Linked DNA regions of Homo sapiens: all the other regions are linked to region 4. Evidence: fine-mapped QTL for protein levels in blood plasma. A gene starts in region 4. Each other region holds a variant in brackets. All regions are shown on one strand. Distances are between the middles of the regions.

Region 1 (5,134 bases), 19 kb after region 4:
CTCTTCTTCCAGGGAGAGGCTAGTGGTAACAGGCCGAGCTGGATGGATGGGTATGGGGAGAGGGGCAGGACGTTCAGCCCTGGGATTCTGGCCGACCCTCGCCTTCCTTCTCTGCAGCTTCCCCGCAGGTAAGGCACTGCCGGCCGGGCGCGCGGGGCCGGGTCCCTGGGCCGCCCCTCAATGCTGGGCCAGATGTGCGCGAGTGAGTCCGGGCTCAAGTTCTCCGGACCTCCTCCGGACCCCGCCTCCTATTTCCAC[G/T]GGTCTTTTGTTTCTCCCGCACCCCGTCGTGGGTGCGATGCCTGCCCTTGGGGACCCGGAGAGGGGCACCCTGCCCGAGTTGCCGTGAGATGGAGCCGTGTGGGGAGGGCGCAGGGGCCGGGGTGCCTCACTCCCTTCCCTTTTTCCGAGAAAGGGGGTGGCTGGGAACGTGCCTCCTAGGGGCTCGGGAAGAGGGGGAGAAGGGGAGGCACGCCCTCGGTGCTGGGGACACTTTCTTCAGCTCCTCGCCCAGCAGTTTGCAAACCTGCCGGGTGCCCAGGGGTGGAGCCAGGGTCGCCCCTGAGGTCCCAGCCGAGTTCCCGACAGCCCCCTCCCCGGAGACCTCGTCTCGTTTCCACCCATTTGGCCACGCGGGGACACCCACGGACTCGGCTCAAATGAGCTGGTGTTCCTGTTTGATAACTTTCTGCGTCGCCCCCTGTTTGTTTTTATTGTGTCAGAAAAGGAGAGAATTTCAGAATTAAAGCTGAAAAAGCCCATCTGTTTCCAATGAATCCCCCATAGTTTTTCACAATGTTTTTGGCAGATCGCTGCTTTCAAATTCCTCCGAGCCCGGACCTCTTGTTTTTGTTGGGGGAAGGGAGACCAACTCCACAGAGAAGCATTTGTTCCTTCCCAAACGCTCCAGTTTCTTTACTTTTTTTCCTTTCGGGGGGAGGGGGGAGGCATGCAACTTAAATCCCCGGCCTGTTTTCTTTATGATGTTTCATAAAACTTTATTTCATTTTTGCCATATGCTGCTCACAGCCAGAAAACGCCAGTTAAGCCCTTTATACCCATTTTTTTTCTTGCTAAAAATACAAATAAACACAATGTCACGGGCCAAATGGCCCCCCCGGCGCAAGGCGGGATCTCCCAGCCGTTTCCATTGTGTTTGCGGGGTTCAGAGGTGTCTTTTTGAAAAAATTTCATCTTGTTTCGCACCACAGCCAGGCGTAGAGCCGCAGCCCCCGCGCACTACTGAGCTTTGCAAGAAAGGACTTGAGTTTAGACTCGGATTGGGTTATTTTGATTTGCTCTTCCGCCAACTGGGTTTCAAGGAACTGGCAAAACTGGGCAGGTCTGGCTCGGCCTGGCTGTGAGTTGGGGCTCCCAATGGGCGGACCACGCAGACAGTGAACAGTAGGGAGCGAGGGATCAGTTTACCCCCTAGTCCCAGCCCTGCTCCTGGCCCCCAGCGCCAGCTCAGACTTGTGCGTCCGGCTTACTCAACCACTGCGCACCCCAGAAGGGTCGCAGAGAGCCGCAACCTGCTCTCCAGACCTAGGTTCCATAGGGAGGCCTGGCCAAGGACAAGATGTCGGGTGAGGGATCTTGGTATCCCCAAAAAGTACTCAGCTTGGAATGTCAAAACCTCCGCAGGGGATCAAACAGCAGGGTGCCCTCTCCTCACCCCCAGTGTATTTAAAAGGCAGTTTCTCCACCTACTTAAGAGTCTGGTTGAACAGCCCAATTTGGTTTCCTCCCAAGAATTCAAAATTAAAATAAAAATCACCCTATTTAAGAAGAAGTCAACGTTTTGGAAAAGCAGGAGTTTGCAATTTGTGTTCTTGGTTTGGTCTAGATAAAGATCAAGCCCATTGGAAGTTTTATCAGATGGGTTGATAAATGGCTTTTGTCCCTTGGCTGCCGTGGGGGATGTGATCTCAGCTCAAAGCTGAAATTGAGAAGAGGGGCTTAGAGGCCCTTAAAACAACACCTTCCCGCTCTTAAAGCTGCAGCACTTGTTACCTTTTGGGGCTGGAGAGGAAAGGAAGGCCTGGCAGAAGTTTCCAGAGGTAGGAGGCTGCATGGCCTGAGTGGTGGTGGTTTTGTTGTTTCTCGATTTATTTCTCCATCCTAAAAACTTTTATTTTAAAGCATCCCGCCATAGGCTGAGGAACACTGGTAGGTTATATAAGTCACAGCCCAAATTCCATCACTTTTGTTTCCAAGAAACCCATTTCTTTTTGGCGTCAAGGCCGGTAACTAAAACCTGGCCGATGGAACTGATAGCTGCTCTCCTGTCACGCCAGCTGGCTAATGTTTCTTCTCATTTGAGGGCTTGACAGCTGCGTTTAGTCAAAATTGCCCACCTGACTGAAAACTGAGCTTCCAGTACCCCAAAACTAAATATACTGGGGGCTCCAAAACTTGTGTGCTCTAGAAATGTGGGTCAAAAGACAGTTTCTTAAGTAAGGGATGAAATGGGAAATTTCCACAACAGAGAGAGACTGTCCCATTCTTTGACACATTGACCAGGAGAGGGGCCGCTTAGGAATGAAGTTAGAAAACTTGCAGGTCTGATGGAGAGCAAGGCGGGAGATCGAGAAATAAAGCCCCAGCAAGTGGAAGGCACCCAGACACACTGGGGGCCCCTGTGTGCCTTGGCCTCTCCCGTTGAAGACAGGTGGAAACTGGCCGAGCAACTGCGTGAAAGCCTCGGTTTGTTCTGTGCTAGTCAGCTTGAATGGCTGCCAGGAGTAAGCCTATAGGAGTGCAAATTAAATCGAACATAGTTATGTGGAGAAAGATGCCTTCACCTCAGCTACACTGAGAGCGTTTGTGTGTTTCGAGTGTTTGCATTTACTTACTCCATGTGGATGGCCAACCTACTGGGTTCCTGACTCAGTGACAACTTTTGGAGCCTTCTAACCAAGCCCCTCAGGCAGACCACAGCCTGGTGATGAGAAAGGGCCCCTGCACTGTCAAGCGGTCTGGAAGGGTGTCTGTTTAGATGATTCTTTGGGGACAGCACAGGCAGACAGTGTCCACGTCTACCTAGGAAGGGAGGCCAGAAAGGACTCTTAAAAGAGCATTCCACAAATGGCATCCTACTCAAATCACAGCTAATAGATGGCTTTTTAAACTTTGAAGCCATTGTGACTTTTTCGAAAAGAGTTCCAAGAGAAATCCATCCAGGCATATGTTTCGGACATGTCACCAGGCTTCCTGTTCACTATGTGTGGGTCCTGTACTTCAGCACAGTGGTTCTCCAAGTGTGGTCCCTGGACCAGCAGCATTAGCCTTCCTTGGGAACTGGTTAGAAATGCAAGTTCTAGGCCCACCACAGACCTATAGAAGCAGTTACTCTGGAGCTGGGGCCCTGCAGTCTGTGTTCTAGAGCAGGCCCTCCAGAGAGCTCTGATGCATGCTCAAGTTTGAGGATCGCTGTTCTAAGAACTATTGCACTCCAGACTTTCTTTGTTCCTTCTTTCTTCCCCTTATACTTTGAACTGCAGCTGTTTTAGAAATGTTAGTCCTCAGTGGGTAACTAAGGTTTCGGGAGACCAAGGCCCTCTGCAGTGTCCAGGTACATCTGTGTCGCTATAGAAATGAGACTGTTTCTATCAGAGCTGCTATTCAAAAATGCATCGGCCAGGCGCGGTGGCTCACGCCCGTAACCCCAGCACTTTGAGAGGCCGAGGTGGGTGGATTGCTTGAGGCCAGGAGTTCGAGACCAGCCTGACCAACATAGCGAAACCCCGTTTCTACTGAAAATACAAAAATTAGCTGGGCGTGGTGGCATGAGCCTATAATCCCAGCTACTCGGGAGGCTGAGGCAGGAGAATCGCCCGAACCCGGGAGGTGGAGGTTGCAGTGAGCTGAGATCGCACCACTGTACTCCAGCCTGGGTGACAGAATGAAACTCCGTCTCAAAAAACAAACAAAAAAAAAATGCATCAGCAGATCAGCCTGCTTACCACACTATTGCTCTCCCAGTAGGACTTTGTGTCCCAAGGGGAGAGTGTCTTAGTTTGTTTGGGCTGCTGTAACAAAATACCATAAGTGGGTGGCTTATACATGACAGACATTTATTGCTCACAGTTCTGAAGGCTGAAAAGTCCAAGAGTGATAGGTGCTGGCAGATTTGATGTCTGGTTTGTAGATGGTGCCTTACAGCTCTGTCCTCACAGGGCAGAAGTGAGGGCACTCTGTGGGGTCCCTTTTATAAGAGCACTAATCCCATTCTTGAAACCTCCACCCTGATGACCTAATCACTTCCCAGATCCCTCCTACTTCTCATACCATCACTTTGGGGTTAGGCTTTAAAAGGTGAATTCGGAGTTGATGTTCAGTGGCAAGAACCAGCCAGCTAGCAACCAGTGTGTGACGGCACCTGCAGAGCAGCGCATTGGCTCCCAGGGAGAGCACGCACATAAAACTCTACAGATGGCCAGCCACTAGGCCCTGAGGGTGTATTGAGGAGAAAGGGAAAGGATCTCTAGTCTTGTGATCTGAGGAAGGGAAAGGTCTTTGCAAGGTTGGAGAAATGGCTAGTAGTCACTCCAGCGCTCAGAGGATGGGAGCTGGGGAGAGGTGATCTGTGGGCACAGATAAGGCCACTCTATGAGATGGAGAAGAGGAGGCCTTGGAAGATAAGAGGCTGAAGGTGGGGACCAGTTTACATGTTGGGGAGAGTGTCGTTCCTGCTAGAGATCTTGTCTTTGGTGAAATGTGCGAGGCCTAGAACTGGGCAGAGAACCCCAACTTTAGGTTTTGGTTGAGTAGCAGTTAGGGGCCATGCTGTTTTGCTGCTTGGCAAAAATTCAACCAGCCTTAAATTGAAGACAGTATTTCTTTGAAGGTAGCCAACTTATCCCAGTTTGCCCAGGACTTTCCTAGTTTTAAAACTGGAATCTATATGTCCTGAGAACTATCCTCAGTCCCTGGCACACCAGGACAGTTAGATTAAAACCCTAGTTTTATCCTCTCCTGTCCCCTGGACTCATGCCTAGCCTGTATCTGTTAGGGACTCCCCTGTCCAGATCTGTGAAGTCCTGGGTGTGAAGTGGGCCCCTCCATGTGGTCTAATCACCTGGGGCCATGGGTCCTTCCTCCTCCTGGTCCTGCCTGTTCCCTCTGTCACCTTGCT
Region 2 (5,146 bases), 45 kb after region 4:
GAAACTCACCTGCTCCCCTGGCCACCGGCCCTCCTCCTCTCAGGCCTCCCACCCTATGGGCTTGTGGCCAAGAGAGCCCAGAGTCTGGAAACGCAGAGTCTAATCCCAGCTCTGCCTCTTGCTGGCTGTGTGACCTTAGGCAAGTTACTGCCTCTCTCTGAGCCTACATTTTCTCATCCGGAAAATTGAGAGTAATGTCACCGACCCTTGCAGTGTCACACGAGACTGGAAGTAATACATGCAGTGCTTAGCATGCTGTATGCAGCCAATGCCTCTGTGTCTGGCTCTCAGGAGAACAGTGCCACCCAGCCAGCTGCTGCTCCAGCAGCTCAGTCCAGCCCCTCACCCCTGGCCACAGGCTCCAGCAGAAAGGAGCCTCCCTGCTCCAGCCCCGGCCAAGGCTGCCCGTTCAGCCTGGAACCTCCATCTCCCTTTTACCGACCAGCACCTTGCTCCTTTCCTGTTCCCCTCCTCCATGACCCAGCTTGGGGACCCCTTTCAGCAGCCTTGGGACAGTGGCTTCTGCTTGCCTCTGCCTGCTTGCATGGATTTTGCCCTATTCATTCTTTCTTTGAGCATCATTTCCCTCCATTCCACCTGCTGTAATGTTCAGACATTTGCTTGGGTCCTTTGTCAGGAATTGTGCTCCAGTACCACTGTCATTATGCAAGATGATGTTTGCAAACCATATTCATTTCCTATCGCCACTGTAGCAAATTAGCATAAACTGAGTGGTTCAAACCAACAGAAATGTTTTATAATTGTGGAGGCCGGAAGTTGGGAATATGTCTCGTGGGGATAAAATCAAGGTATCAGCAGGGCTGGTCCTGGAGACTCCAGGGGAGAATCCATTCATTGCCATTTCCAGCTTTTGGTGGTTGCCAGCATCCCTTGGTTTGTGGCCACATCATTCGAATCTCTGCCTTGTTGAGCACATCACCTTCTCCTCTGTCCTAGTTAGTCAAATCTCCCTCTGCCTCCTTCTTATAAAGATACTTGTGATTCCATCTAGGGCCCACCCAGGTAATCCAGAATAATCTCTTCATCTCAGTGTTCTTAACCTAATCATATCTGCAGGGTCCCTTTTGCCATCTAAGGGAACATTCCCAAGTTACAGGGATTAGGGCATGTTCTTCTTGGGAGCCATTATTCAGCCTACCACACTGGGCTTTTGACCTTTTATTTTTAATTATCTATGCTTTTATTTTTCTGGTTCACTTCCCTATATAGTAAAAGAGCTAGTTTTCTACTTAGGGTAGTGGTCTAACATTTTTCTAAGTCACTTTTTAAAGTAAAAAGGGCAAGTTGTTTTCATTGAAAGAATGTGAAGTGCACAGCTGCGCAGGTGGAACTGATCTGTCCAACCTGGAGAAGGGAGTGTCTGGGGCATCCCTGGGGATCCTTCCTGCCCTCCTCTCAGTCTAGAGCATCTTAAGTGTGGGGCTGTGCCTCCTCCCACTGTGCCTCACCCACTCTCCTCTGCCCCTTTCCCCGGCAGCTCACCATCATCTTCAAGAACTTCCAGGAGTGTGTGGACCAGAAGGTGTACCAGGCTGAGATGGACGAGCTCCCGGCCGCCTTCGTGGATGGCTCTAAGAACGGTGGGGACAAGCACGGGGCCAACAGCCTGAAGATCACTGAGAAGGTGTCAGGCCAGCACGTGGAGATCCAGGCCAAGTACATCGGCACCACCATCGTGGTGCGCCAGGTGGGCCGCTACCTGACCTTTGCCGTCCGCATGCCAGAGGAAGTGGTCAATGCTGTGGAGGACTGGGACAGCCAGGGTCTCTACCTCTGCCTGCGGGGCTGCCCCCTCAACCAGCAGATCGACTTCCAGGCCTTCCACACCAATGCTGAGGGCACCGGTGCCCGCAGGCTGGCAGCCGCCAGCCCTGCACCCACAGCCCCCGAGACCTTCCCATACGAGACAGCCGTGGCCAAGTGCAAGGAGAAGCTGCCGGTGGAGGACCTGTACTACCAGGCCTGCGTCTTCGACCTCCTCACCACGGGCGACGTGAACTTCACACTGGCCGCCTACTACGCGTTGGAGGATGTCAAGATGCTCCACTCCAACAAAGACAAACTGCACCTGTATGAGAGGACTCGGGACCTGCCAGGCAGGGCGGCTGCGGGGCTGCCCCTGGCCCCCCGGCCCCTCCTGGGCGCCCT[C/G]GTCCCGCTCCTGGCCCTGCTCCCTGTGTTCTGCTAGACGCGTAGATGTGGAGGGAGGCGCGGGCTCCGTCCTCTCGGCTTCCCCATGTGTGGGCTGGGACCGCCCACGGGGTGCAGATCTCCTGGCGTGTCCACCATGGCCCCGCAGAACGCCAGGGACCGCCTGCTGCCAAGGGCTCAGGCACGGACCCCTCCCCTTCTAGTGCACGTGACAAGGTTGTGGTGACTGGTGCCATGATGTTTGACAGTAGAGCTGTGTGAGAGGGAGAGCAGCTCCCCTCGCCCCGCCCCTGCAGTGTGAATGTGTGAAACATCCCCTCAGGCTGAAGCCCCCCACCCCCACCAGAGACACACTGGGAACCGTCAGAGTCAGCTCCTTCCCCCTCGCAATGCACTGAAAGGCCCGGCCGACTGCTGCTCGCCGATCCGTGGGGCCCCCTGTGCCCGCCACACGCACGCACACACTCTTACACGAGAGCACACTCGATCCCCCTAGGCCAGCGGGGACACCCCAGCCACACAGGGAGGCATCCTTGGGGCTTGGCCCCAGGCAGGGCAACCCCGGGGCGCTGCTTGGCACCTTAGCAGACTGCTGGAACCTTTTGGCCAGTAGGTCGTGCCCGCCTGGTGCCTTCTGGCCTGTGGCCTCCCTGCCCATGTTCACCTGGCTGCTGTGGGTACCAGTGCAGGTCCCGGTTTTCAGGCACCTGCTCAGCTGCCCGTCTCTGGCCTGGGCCCCTGCCCCTTCCACCCTGTGCTTAGAAAGTCGAAGTGCTTGGTTCTAAATGTCTAAACAGAGAAGAGATCCTTGACTTCTGTTCCTCTCTCTCCTGCAGATGCAAGAGCTCCTGGGCAGGGGTGCCTGGGCCCCAGGGTGTGGCAGGAGACCCAGTGGATGGGGCCAGCTGGCCTGCCCTGATCCTCTGCTTCCTCCTCACAACCCCAAGAGCCCCCAGCCCGGTCCATCCACGTCTGGAGTCTGGGGAGAGGAGCAGGGTCTTAGGACTCTCAGCTCTGAGCATCCCTGGCAGGGTCTTCAACCTCTAATCTCTTCCCTTAAGCCCTGTGGCCACACAGCCAGGAGAGACTTGCCGCTGGCTCCCGCCTCATTTCAGCCCAGGGTGCTCATCCAGGGGCCCAGAACAGTCCCACCTGTGCTGCTGTGCCCACAGCACAAAGCCAGGCTTCACTCCCAAAAGTGCAGCCAGGCCCTGGAGGGTGATCCTGCCAGCAGCCCTACAGCTCCACACCCTACCCACCCATCGGCAGCCCCTCTGCTGTTCCCCAGGGACCTCTCATACACTGGCCAGGAGGCTGCAGAACGTGTGTCTCCCCCTCCCTCCAAGAGGTCCTGCTCCCTCTGCCAGAACCGTGTGTGGGCGGGTGGGAGGGCGCTCGGGGCCCGGCCCCTCCCTCTCCCTGCTGGTTTTAGTTGGTCCCTATGTTGGAAGTAAAAAGTGAAGCACTTTATTTTGGTTGTGTTTGCTCACGTTCTGCTTGGAAGTGGGGACCCCTCACTGCGTCCACGTGTCTGCGACCTGTGTGGAGTGTCACCGCGTGTACATACTGTAAATTATTTATTAATGGCTAAATGCAAGTAAAGTTTGGTTTTTTTGTTATTTTCTTTTAGACGTGTTGGAGTTTGTTTTCTGAACAGACTTTGGCTCCCTTGAGGCGGGTGGAGGATGGACTTTGGTGGTGGGATCCCCTGCAGCAAGTGTGTGTGTGTGCGCGCATGTGTGTGTGCGCGCATGTGTGTATGCATGCCTGTGTGTGTGCGTGCCTGTGTGCGTGCATGTACGCATGTGTGCGCATGCCTGTGTGTGCGCCCATGCCTATGTGTGTGCATGTAGGCATGTGTGTGCGCATGTGTATGTGCGTGAGAATGGTGTGAAGGCGGATAGAAGATGCAGCAGTTTAACAGCCACCACACATTGCTTTTGTAAAGTCACTTTTCCTCCTCACGATGAGCTGTCTTTGGAGCTTGGCAGGCCCAGATCCTCTTGTTCTAGTGACAGTGGAACACAGTCAGGGAGACAGGTGACTATGTGGTGGAGAGACATATGGTGCCCTCTGGGATGAGATGGGTGGGATAGCCTGAGATCTGGGATGACTCCCTCTCAGCCACTGCTATCAGCCTGGAGCCCCAGCTGTTGGGACTGCCTGCCACCCTCCCTGCCAGTGCCCATCTTCTCATAGCCCGGGCGGAGCAGTGGTGCTGCAGGAGGCTGCTGTCCACGTCACTGTGGGACCAGGTTTATTGGCAGCTGTGATCACATTTCATCTGTACAAACTACCCAGTGAATCAGGAAGAAATTCAGGCCCATTTTGCCGATGAAACAGACTCTGAGATTAACTGACTTGCCTAGGGCTCCTTAGCAACGGGAAGGACAACCTGTGCACCTAGGTTAGTATTGTCCTGAAGCCCCTTCTCTTCAAACTAAATGCCATGAGGCAGAATAGCAGCACAGTTAAGCCAGCCTACATCCTGGCTTCTCCACCTCCCCAGCAGTGTGACCATGGGCAAGTCACTTCACCTCTCTGAGCCTGCATGCTGTTCTCTGGAAGATGGGGGGGTGCCTGTCCCATACAGTTGTTTGGAGAGTCAGGAGTTCATTCCTGTAAATTGCTTAGGAGAGGGCGGGGCACACATGGCTTGTCTGGTCGTGGGGAGGGAGGGGGTGGTATTATCCCAAAGCAAGATAAATCAGTTAAGGGGAGAAGGAAAGGGGCGATACAGACCCTGGACTCTTGGGAGAGGTGAACCTGCAGGCTAGCAAGGGGAGGAGTCCCAAGAGTGGCCAAGTTCATTAATCCCAGGCAGACCAGGAAGGCTGAAGAAAAAGGAGAACTTTATTTTATTTTTGAAATGGAGTCTGGCGTCTTGCTCTGTCGCCAGGCTGGAGTGCAGTGGCACCATCCCAGCTCACTGCAGCCCCTGCCTCCCAGGTTCAAGCAATTCTCCTGCCTCAGCCTC
Region 3 (5,146 bases), 130 kb before region 4:
CACAAAACAAAGAGATGCAGATACAGAATGAAAATATTATTAACCAAAGCAGCTCATGCCCATTACCAAAACTCCAACCACACAGTATTCCTTCAGGGCAATGCTTCAACCATGTAGCCGTGGACATCCTTGCAAAGGAGGAAAAGGTTTTTTCTCTGAGTTAAACCATGATGGGGACTGAGCTCATAAAAGCACATTCAGATTTTTTTGCTGCTCCACTACATAATTTATGTCCTAGTCAGGCACAATTTTCATTTAATCAAGAGCTATCTTGTCTCCAACCTTTCAATTGGGAGTAACTTTGTACAAGATGAAAATAACCTCATCCATCATGATGATAGAAATTGTTCTATATCTTCCAGGCTTTTACTTCTGACAAAATGCCAGGAATCCTGCTTCCTTGGGTGGCTTATGGAAATGCAGCAGACCCAAATTTCATTAGGACTGTAATAGCATGTCCTGTCCATGGATTAATGTGTGCCAGATGTGCAGGTTCAACCACATCTGCAAGCACCAGCCACCTGCTCAGAGGAGTCGGCCTCCAAAGCCAAGGCAAGAGAAGGCTGCTAACATTTTATTTGCCCTCCACCCTGGAGCAAAAATAATAATAATAATAATAATAACTTAAAATGCGGCAGAGGGATTGCCTAGCTTTTATTCAAAGGGGTGATGGTTTACATGAAGCTACGTACCACTAGGTCTTTCCAAGCATCTTTCTTGGACTTCTGCACCAATGTATTTAAAGGCTGAAAACCAAAGTTCCCATCCCATCACAGTGATCTTGGATAAATTCCTCGGCATCCGTGAGCTTTGCATTCCTTGTCTGTAAAATGACAGCAACAACACGAACTTGCAGGGTGGCAGTGAAAATGAAATGAGATGAAACAGAAGAAATTGCATTGCACAGTGAGAGGAGCATAGTAATTGCTCAATAAATGTTGTCCAGTCCACATTTGCGATTTTTTTTTAAGTCACATAGGTAGGGCCAAGACTGCGCTTGGATCCAGTGTGCTTGGGCCAGTGGGCTTGGATCTTGCTTTCATTCTCAAACCTGTCACCCTTCACATACACACTCAATCTCTCTCTCATGCACACACACTCTCTCTCTCAGCTTTGTTTGGGCCTGTACTATAGTGCAGGGGTTGGCTTGAGAGGCAGGAGGAACAGAAGGGCCCAGGCAAGTCATTTCTGAAAGTAAAAGTCAGAAACAGAGACATGGCAGAATGCAGGCCTAATCTACCCCTCTTCACTTCACTCACGTGGCCTGCAGAGCACATGGCAGTGCTGACAGGAATCTATGCACATATGCACTACCCACATACCCCTAAGCAATATATGGTTTAGTTTTGATTGTTTTTAATCTTTATATAAATGAAGCCATCCTTATCTATTCCTGTATGACTTTTGTTTTTCATTCAACATTATTTTTCTGAGATTCATTCATGTTAATGCATGAAGCTGTAATTTTTCCTGTTCACTACTGTATAATATTTCATTGTGTGACTATACCAGAATGTATTCTACCACTGATAAACATCCGTGCTGTTTCCAATTTTTTGCTATTATAAACAGTGCTGCAATGAACATTCCTGTATTGGTGCATATGATCAAAAGATTCTCCAATACATATGGCTAGAAGAACACTGCTGGATCAAAGGTTATGCCTAATTTTGACTTTAGCTAAGCTATTTTGACTTTTGACTATAGCGTCAAATTATTTTTCCAAAGATCTTCTTCCAGTTCACAGTCTAATTTCCTATTTCTTGGCAGAAATGTTGAAAACTACCTTGGAGAATGTTATTCCTAGATTTTTTGAGCTTAATCTCTGAATTTCATTTACCTTAGTGGCCCGTCAAGCTGTCTCCAACATTTCAGAAGCCACATTAATGTGAGAAAACTATGAGAATTATATCCAATTTGTTTCTTTCTTTACTAGAAATTAAGCTATCTACTCTTGCAATGGAATACTTTGAAGAAATGATGGCAAGTAGCCTAAATCGCTCTTTTTCTTCAATACTTAAGAATGTAACTAAAAATTCATACCAACTGGCCGGGCGCAGTGGCTCATGCCTGTAATCCCAGCACTTTGGGAGGCTGAGGTGAGCGGATCATAAAGTCAAGAAATTGAGACCACTCTGGCCAACATGGTGAAACCCTGTCTCTACTAAAAATACAAAAATTAGATGGGCGTGGTGACGCGTGCCTGTAGTCCCAGCTACTCAGGAGGCTGAGGAAGGAGAAGCATTTGAACCTGGGAAGCAGAGGTTGCAGTGAGCCGAGATCGCGCCACTGCATTCCAGCCCGGCGACACAGCAAGACTCTGTCTCAAAAAGAAAAAAAAGAAAAAAAAATTCACACCAATTATCCAGTTGATTTTTAAGTGCAAAATGCAAGAATTCCCAATATTAGGTCACAAGGACAGGTTTTGCCTATTTTCAATGCTAATACATAATTAAACTTCCATCTATGTTTTAAGATTGTTTTTCTCAACCAAGTCTGATGAATTATATAATTTGTGATGTACCTGTTGACAAATCATGCTTCTTTTACATAATTAAAGTAAATGAAACAGTATGCATCACTTATTAGCTGGGTGTTTAAAAAATCTTACAGTCAATTTTTATAACATATAACATGCAAAAATGACAAAATGTGGTGCTTTTTTTTAAGAAATTTCTACAGGATGGGGAGGGGTAAGAGATTGCACACTTTCGGAAGGAAACAGCAGGTGCAAACTTTTGCAAAGCACCTCTCTGCACTACACACCCTCCTCCCCTCTCCACCTCATGTGACCATGGACAAATCAGACACATTGGGAAAGACACACCCTAATCTGTTTCCATGGCCCTATGAGAAGCACAGATTTGGAAATACAATTCCCAGCAAGCCCAGGCATTTTAATGAGCCATGGCCAACTGGAGTGAC[A/G]GAATCCTTCAGCCATGTCAAATGCCACCACAGCTGGCCCAGGGCAAAAGAAAGTGCCTCCTCCCTGGGACACCACCCTGTGTCCCAACCACATGAGATAAAAATGCAGAGTGCATTTCCCAGCTTCCCTCAGGACCCAGGAGAAATGCAGGCTAAATGCAGAGCAGGGAGCCTTGGCATCTCAGGCCAAGTTGGAATGCCGAACCATTCAAGGAACACCAGCCAAGGCAGGAAATGGGCAGGGAAGGGGCTAAGAGCAAACCTAATCAGTCCAGCAACCTTGCAAATGACATTTGGAAGTGCAAAGTCGTTCTGAGTTCCAGAACAAGAAATATCTTTAGATGTTGAAATGGCTTTTGCCAAATGCCAACCTGCTGAATTTGTTTTTCTTTTGGTTCATTAAAAAAGAATAACCATTTGTGCATTTATGAAAAGAAATATTACCTTCCCAGGGTCTACAGGCAACTACCTGGAATTTGGCGTAGTCTCTCCTTGTGAGCTGTTTTTTTTTCTTTATATCAGCAAATATTGATTGACTATGGTGTGTCAAGGCAACGGAGAAACAGTCCCTACTCTCAAAGAGCTTCTAGTGTGGTGCGTGGACAGAATGAAATGCAGACGATTACGATGCAACATGGCCTGCGGCTCATTCTACAGAAGTGGTGACCACCACGCTACAAAAGCAAGCCGAAGGAAGTGGGAGGAAGTTCCAGGTACAAAGTTTCTGCATACAAAGAGGCACGAGGAGGTGGCAGAATCAGTGCCAGGCTCTGCTAAAAGCACTGGGCATATATGAACCTATTTTATCCTCAACAACCCATGCAGGTGCTGCTACCATCTTCACTTTACAAATGAAGAAACTGAGGTACAGGAAGGTTGATTGACTTCCCCAAGATCCCCCAGCCAGGAATTGGCTGAAAGTAGTTCAAAATGGTTGGAGCATATTAGGGGTCTGAGAGGGTGAGGGGAATGAGGGGGAAACAGGTTGTCAAGACATATAAAATCAGGAAGAAGCCAAATTGTGAAGGTCCACACATATCATGTTGGGAATTTGCAAGCATGTAAGCAACCCCTGAAGAAGTTCAAGGGGGTAATGCTAGGAGCTGAGGTGGGCTCTAGAAAGCTTACGCCATGTATCTTGTGGAAATTAGATTGAATGCAAGCAAGGTTAGTGGAGGGTGAGGGGACCAATCTAGTGAGAGGTAATGGTGGCCTGAACTAGAGGAGTAGCAGTGGGGGTGACAGGCATTTGGATAATTCCAGGGACCTTTGCTAAGTAGAATCAACTGGACAATAGCTGATGAAATGGGAGAGTTAAGGCGGGGCAGGGGTCGGGGTACGGAGGCCAGCTTCCAGGCTCCTGGCGCGAGCTCCACACAGATTATTGGACCACCAGAAGAATTCTCTCAGATCTGAGAATAACAACAATGGAACTGGCCCTGTTCTTCAACTATTTACTAGCACCAGGCTGGACACTTAGAAGAATACTTCTGTCTTAGAAGTATTCTTCTGGCTCTGCCAATGTGACCAGAATGTTCCCAGAGATAGGCACTCCCTCCTCCACACTCATTTCTCTAAGTCTTCGTGCTCTGTGTTTCTGGACATACCGTTTTAACAGGTCCTGGCTTTAGCCATCCCAGGAGGAATGTATGACCCCAGAGTCCTGGTGAAGAATGAGCAGATACACCCAGTGGCCTCTAGACTTTTCCATCACAACCCATCATGTCTGCATTCTTTTTTAAACCCAAATCAGACTTGGGCCCACGCATATTTTCCCAACACTTTAAAGCCACGTGTGGGTTTTCAGTGAAATTGAATCTGTATGTTTCTGATCCTTCTACACTTCAGTCATTCCCGTGATTTGAGGAAACAGCTACTTGACATCCAGGAAACCTTCCCGGACATTTCATGACATTTCAAAGCCTCCTTTTCTCCTGTCTTAGACATAGGAAGCAACAACCTGCCAAGTATAAGCAAAACCCCTTCTCCAAGATGCTTGAGTCTGATTTTAAATGTCTTTCTCTGTAAGAGTTAGAGAAAAGAAAGCAAGAGATGAGGTAAGAGCAGAAAGCCTACGGAGAGAAGGAACAAAGAAACCAGCAACATGAAAAGTCCCAGTCATCAGACTAAGAAACTACTGTCACCATTTTGGTATTTGTTTAGGGTATTTGTTTATTAATTTGTTCCCAAGCCCTTTCACATAGAATTTGAAGTGGCAACA
Region 4 (5,146 bases):
CCTGAATTTTTCTAGAAAAATGTAATAGGCAGGGCACCCAATCCAAAGGGATGGCCCCCAGTGGCAACCCTGAGTAAAGTAAGGCCAATTCACTGTCACATTGCTTGGTCAATTTCACTATGAATCCACGCTCCGAGGACGCACTCTTGCCCAGTAGGCACCACCCCTCACTGGCAACAGAGAGACAGCAAATTGCTCCGCACCCCAGTAGCACAGGCTTTCCCTGCGCCGGGTGTGGTGCATCCCAGGAGAGCTTTCTCACACCAGGTGGCATCCAGGTGGATCTGGCGACCGCCCAGCAAGCATGTATCCCCTCTCACAAAAGGGAAGAAAAGGAAGAGTGGCCAAGAAGGGGTGGAAACCCCAGTTTTCCTCTATAAATGTGACGCCGGATTTTAACCTCTCCCTCGGCAAATCTACATATCAGACAAAAAAGAAACTAATATAGATATTAGTCTTGTACTGACTTAGACTTTCACTTACCCCGCCCCTTGTTTCTTAATGGCCTTTTTTCTTTTTTTTAAACTCTTGTACCTAGGTTAGCCTGTTTCCTGTTCATATTAAGGAATCCAGGCCCTTTGCAGTAAAGAAAGCCAAGGATACCCTGGAGCTTTATATTAGGAATGTTTCTAGATTGTTGGTTGAAAGCATGTCCATTTCTTAATTTGCACCCTAAACACACTTCACGGCTTCATTTAAATCTGAGCACTCTGTGTATTCCAACTGCCTATGCAGGGTTCTAACTTAACCAAGTACTTAACGAGTAGCATTAATATTCGTTGTCTTCTCCACGGGTGCCTGCACTCATCAAGGTAAATAGTTACCGGCTACCTCCACGGCCCTTGATTGAGCTGAGAATTGTCTGTCCTTATCTAGACAGTGGATTGTTTGTCCCCCACCATGGGAAAACCCTGCTGGTTACTTTCCAAAGGCCTCATTTTAAAAAGACACGTTTCCACTTACAGACCTTTTAAAAATGCCAGGCAATTTGGAAGAACAGTAAGAAATCTACTATCTGCGTGACAGTCATTCAGAGATTCTTGTAGTGTGCCAGGCACCATATTAAGTGCTAGGAATGCAATGATGACTCCAAGGAGTCCTGGTTCCTGCCCTCATGATGCTTATGGTACGGTGGGAGAGGCCAACATGTAGGGAAAGGTCACTCTAATGAGCGCCTAATTACCGAGTGAGCTCAGTGTTAGGAAGGAAAGGCACGGATGTGAGGACTCCCTAGAGGGTGGGGAAGATGTTGGAGCTGAGCTATGAAAGATGAAGAAATTGGTTATTCACTGAATGTCAGGGCACAGAATGTCAGGGCAGGAAGACCACACACACACACACACACACACACACACACACACACACACACACCCTACTATTCATAGATGAGGAAACTGAGGCCCAGCAGAGCTAGATGACTTGCCGAAGGTCAGAGCTAATTCTAGAAACCCATCCCCAATCCCTTCCTGCTAAACCACTTAATTTTATTTATATCCCAGCTATAGATTATACAAATACACTTGACAAATAAAACGGAGAATATTGAGTTAAAACCACATCTCTGAAGACCACACGCATAAATAACGATCGTGTTTTAATGCGGACGATACCTTTTCATTTTGCAAATCCAGAGTTCTCATCATATCAAAATTCAAGACAGTTTGTTCTGTAAGAAGGGGAAGGTCATAACCCTGTCTAGAATGTACTGGCAAATCTCTCTAACCGTGCAGTGCTAATTTGGGCCTGAGCTGTGTAACCAGACCGACTTCACGCTCCAGCTGGGGTTTCAGATCCACACATGGCGATTGGGTGGCTCTTTGCTGTTTCACAGCAAGGGTCCTTCCCTGGGCTCCCGGAGCCTCTGGGGATTTACTGCTCCCGACGTGGCCGTGTTCAAGCCACTGTGTGCATGCGCTTAATGTTGAAAACATTCTTTTGAAAAGCCCAGGAGATTCCACTCGCAATCTGTGCGTGTGCATGTAAAAGCGCAGAGACTGGAAAGAACCGCGGCAGAGCACACCCTGACCGAAGGTTACCGCGGGGGAGCCGCGGCCGTGGGAGAGCCGCGGCCGTGGGAGGGAGTGCGATACGGTCTTTTCACTCTAGACACTCCTGAGTTATGTACAATTCTACGCAAGAATGTATGCGTGTGTTAGCATGTAATACATATGTATTAGTTTTTTCAGGAAGATTCTTAAACAACAACAAAATCTCTATAGAACAAAGGTGCGTCTCCGCAGAGCGCAACAGCATTTGTCTTGGATGTAACCGCCTTCTCCAGAAATCTCAGAGGAACTCCCCTCGACCACCGCCTAACTGAAGGACACCGTGCGCTCCACCGCAACCCTGCGGGCGATTCGGAAAGTTGGAGGCGCCCCGGGGAGTCGCCGCACTTGCCGCCCGCGCCCCCTAACCTGAGCATTCAAGGAGTCTTGACTTGGCCGCTGGCGCACTCCGCACCCACCCAGCCGGTGCTGATGCGGGAGGGTGGGGCCGCGGCGGGGCGGGGCAACGCGAGCCCGCACCCCGCTCCTCCCCGCCCCTCCCTGCCGGCCCCGCCCGCGCGCGCCCCCCGCCCGCGGCCCGGGCGCCCGGCCCGCCCCCTCCCCTCGGCGCGCAAACGAACCTCGCGACGCCGCGCTCGGCGGCGGGCGGGGGCCGGGCGAGGGAGGGGGCTGGTCCCGGCCGCCCCACTCTGCAGTTGTCTCCCGAGCGCTGGCTGCGCCGCCCGAGCCGCTGGGCCGGGGAAGCACTGGCCGTTCGCTCCCGGGCCGGCTCCGCCAGGCGCTCGCAGGCATGCAGCCCGGGAGCAGGAGGCGCTCCCCGGGCCGCTGCTGAGCCGGCCGGGGCGGCGGGGACCAGCGCCAGCGGAGCCCCTCCCACCTTGCCCCGGGGCAGACGAGCGGCGCCCCGACACCCCCTCTTCTCCCGCAGCCCCGCCAGCGCCACCCCCCGCGGGCCGCAGGGGCTCATGCAGCCGCCAAGGTAAGCGCGGGTCGGGAGCCGGGCAGACCCGGCTCTGACATCTCCGAGGCGCCGCCGACACATGCCGGGGCCACGGCGCTGCTTTGGTCTTCCTTAGCCCCGCGTCTCATCTTGCTCCCATCTTGCCCACATTTGGAGCTTTGCTGCGCCTCTATCGCTTTAGCTGTTGGCAGCAGGAAAGTTTTTGTGGTTTGGTGTTTGTTCTTTTTTCCTAAAATACTCTCCCCCGGGCAGCCGCCAGCGCGCGTGGTTGGGCAGACCCGGCACACGTCCCTTACACCGTGTGCGGGCTGGGAGCTCCTTCCCTCAGCCCGGCTCGCGGAGCCCCGGACGGAGCCGGCCACCCGACTGTCCCGCCGTGAACCCCCATTGGCCCGCGCCGCCCGGGCCCCCGCCTCCCGCTCGACGCCCGGCTGCGGAGCTGCCTGGCCATCTCCTGCCCTCGGGGATGTCGGCGCAGTGCACCGCGTGGGCTCGCGTCCCGGCGGCCCTTTGCCTCGGCGCGCCGGCGTACGGGAAGGTGCGGACCTTGGATTGAGGGCCGAGGATGCCCATTGCCAAGCCGCCCCGGCTTTCCTAAGTGGACGGGAGGGCACGGCGACGATTCAGCGCCGGCTCGCGCCGCAGCTCAACCCAGGGTACAAGCCCGGGCATGGGGGACAGGTGTATTCAATGGGAGGGCGGGTGTGGGGGACGCTCGGGTGCAATTCGGGATTGCGTCTTATTAATGTAATTGTATTAGACTTGCTCGGAGGTAGAATCAGTTCTCCCAAATTGAGATTTCTAATGGGAGCCTGTGAGCTGCTATTATGTGGTGTGGTTTTGGGAGGTGTTGGGTTGTATTTATTTTATAAATTGGGTGTCTCGCGGGCGGAGTAGGGGAAGTAGCGCCATCTAGCGGAAGTGGTGAGCTGTGCATTCCTCTTAGGCTGCGAAGTTGTTGGGTGTTCTCAAAGTAGTCTCCCGCACAAGGTGGAGAGGCGGGAACCAGCCCTCGCCTCCAGGAAGGAGGCTACAGAAGCTCTCTGAGTATCGACGGTACCAGGGAGAACCCCGACCTCCCATGCTCAGCACATTGAGCTCAGGGGACGAAATTGCGGGTCGTGTTGAGTGGCATGCTGTCACCTAAAGGAGCTCCATCACCTTCTCTGTTTGGTTTTAGACTCTTCCAGCAAAAACGTAATATAAAATGTTAACTGCTGTAAGAAGATGCCCCTTCCGCAGGTATCTGGTGCAGAGATCTTGAAAACCAATGCACAAACCTCTGTCTTCTCCTGTGCATCACAAACGGGTGATTTCTTGGGTGGATTTTGAGCCATGACCCCTAGAAAAGAGAGTAACTGTGCTCCGAAGGGCAACAGGAGGAGAACTGGGAGAGGGCCTCCTGCCCATTTGTGCAGGAACAGAATAGTGTACCCAAACTGGGTTTTGTGGTTTTTTTTTTTTTTTTTTTTGCACATACAAAGAAGGGGTTTCTTGCTGTTACCACAGCAAGTGACAAGCAAGCCCCCTTTACAGGGACATGATCTCCAATTAACAACTGGGGCAGACGTGGCTGGATGGCAAGTTCTGCAGACAAAGGCTCTGGGTGGGGCACCCACACATCCAGGCGGGCTCCACGTTCTCTGTGGCTGGTTTTTGCTGCCACCTTCCAGGCCAGATAATATATTAGCAGTGAGCTGGGCTCACCCGGTTCTGAAGGGCACCCTGGCCCCTTGTAGAGCAGTGTAGTGGTCTACTGTAGTACCCCCTTGAGACTCTCTGGGCTGTGCTGGTAGTGAAAGAGGTCTTAGCCTCCTTTTTTCAAGTACCCTGCTTCCATTATTTCCCTCCCAGGTGTCAGACAGTTGCTTACATTCTCCAATAGACATATGAAATGGTGGGTGGCTGGTCTGCCCCGTCATGCTGTCTCAAACTGTGTCTCCATTGGTAGGTATTTATGTCATCATGAGACTTGTGACAGACGAGGTCTTAGAATAGCTTGGCATCTCATTCAAGGAGGGCACCTTTGACTTTTGCTAAGAAACCTCTGCCTGCTTTCTCTTTTTACAAACCTCCTCCAAGGAATAACTTGCTGCTTCCCAGTGTATGTAATAATAGACAATAAAGGCACAAGAATCTCCTTTTTAATACAATCCCTTGCTCTTCAGCAGCCCTGTGA

Direction of the effects. Alleles are on the strand shown, and positions count from the first base shown. The strength of an association depends on the size of the effect and on how common the allele is.
For the plasma level of the protein whose gene starts at base 2,693 in region 4, allele T in region 1 goes with a lower level than allele G (moderate association).
For the plasma level of the protein whose gene starts at base 2,693 in region 4, C is the low allele of the variant in region 2 and G is the other (moderate association).
For the plasma level of the protein whose gene starts at base 2,693 in region 4, allele A in region 3 goes with a lower level than allele G (moderate association).

What was found. PIP is the chance, under the fine-mapping model, that this variant and not a neighbour inherited with it causes the effect. The UK Biobank Pharma Proteomics Project read protein levels with antibody pairs (Olink). The fine-mapping took linkage between variants from a reference panel, not from the people measured, so its PIPs are less certain.
Region 1: its variant is fine-mapped to the plasma level of the RGMA protein (UK Biobank, PIP above 0.99).
Region 2: its variant is fine-mapped to the plasma level of the RGMA protein (UK Biobank, PIP above 0.99). The variant lies in the coding sequence of RGMA. If it changes the protein, the assay may bind it differently, which can mimic a change of level.
Region 3: its variant is fine-mapped to the plasma level of the RGMA protein (UK Biobank, PIP above 0.99).

The regions. Positions count from the first base shown.
Region 1 is chr15:93,067,910-93,073,043 of GRCh38, reverse strand. RGMA (repulsive guidance molecule BMP co-receptor a) reads left to right here. Exons shown (of 4, transcript NM_020211.3): 2 at 13-128. Among named protein-coding and RNA genes, the nearest start is that of RGMA, 19 kb to the left of the region's middle. The variant G/T (reference allele first, on the strand shown) is at 259.
Region 2 is chr15:93,042,058-93,047,203 of GRCh38, reverse strand. RGMA (repulsive guidance molecule BMP co-receptor a) reads left to right here. Exons shown (of 4, transcript NM_020211.3): 4 at 1,499-5,146. The coding sequence ends at 2,206. Among named protein-coding and RNA genes, the nearest start is that of RGMA, 45 kb to the left of the region's middle. The variant C/G (reference allele first, on the strand shown) is at 2,170.
Region 3 is chr15:93,215,331-93,220,476 of GRCh38, reverse strand. LOC105370982 (a long non-coding RNA gene) reads right to left here. Exons shown (of 7, transcript XR_007064770.1): 2 at 693-823. Among named protein-coding and RNA genes, the nearest start is that of RGMA, 130 kb to the right of the region's middle. The variant A/G (reference allele first, on the strand shown) is at 2,926.
Region 4 is chr15:93,086,758-93,091,903 of GRCh38, reverse strand. RGMA (repulsive guidance molecule BMP co-receptor a) reads left to right here and starts at 2,693. Exons shown (of 4, transcript NM_020211.3): 1 at 2,693-2,985. The coding sequence starts at 2,972. It overlaps LOC101927025 (a long non-coding RNA gene), which reads right to left and starts at 2,690. Exons shown (of 5, transcript XR_007064769.1): 1 at 2,627-2,690.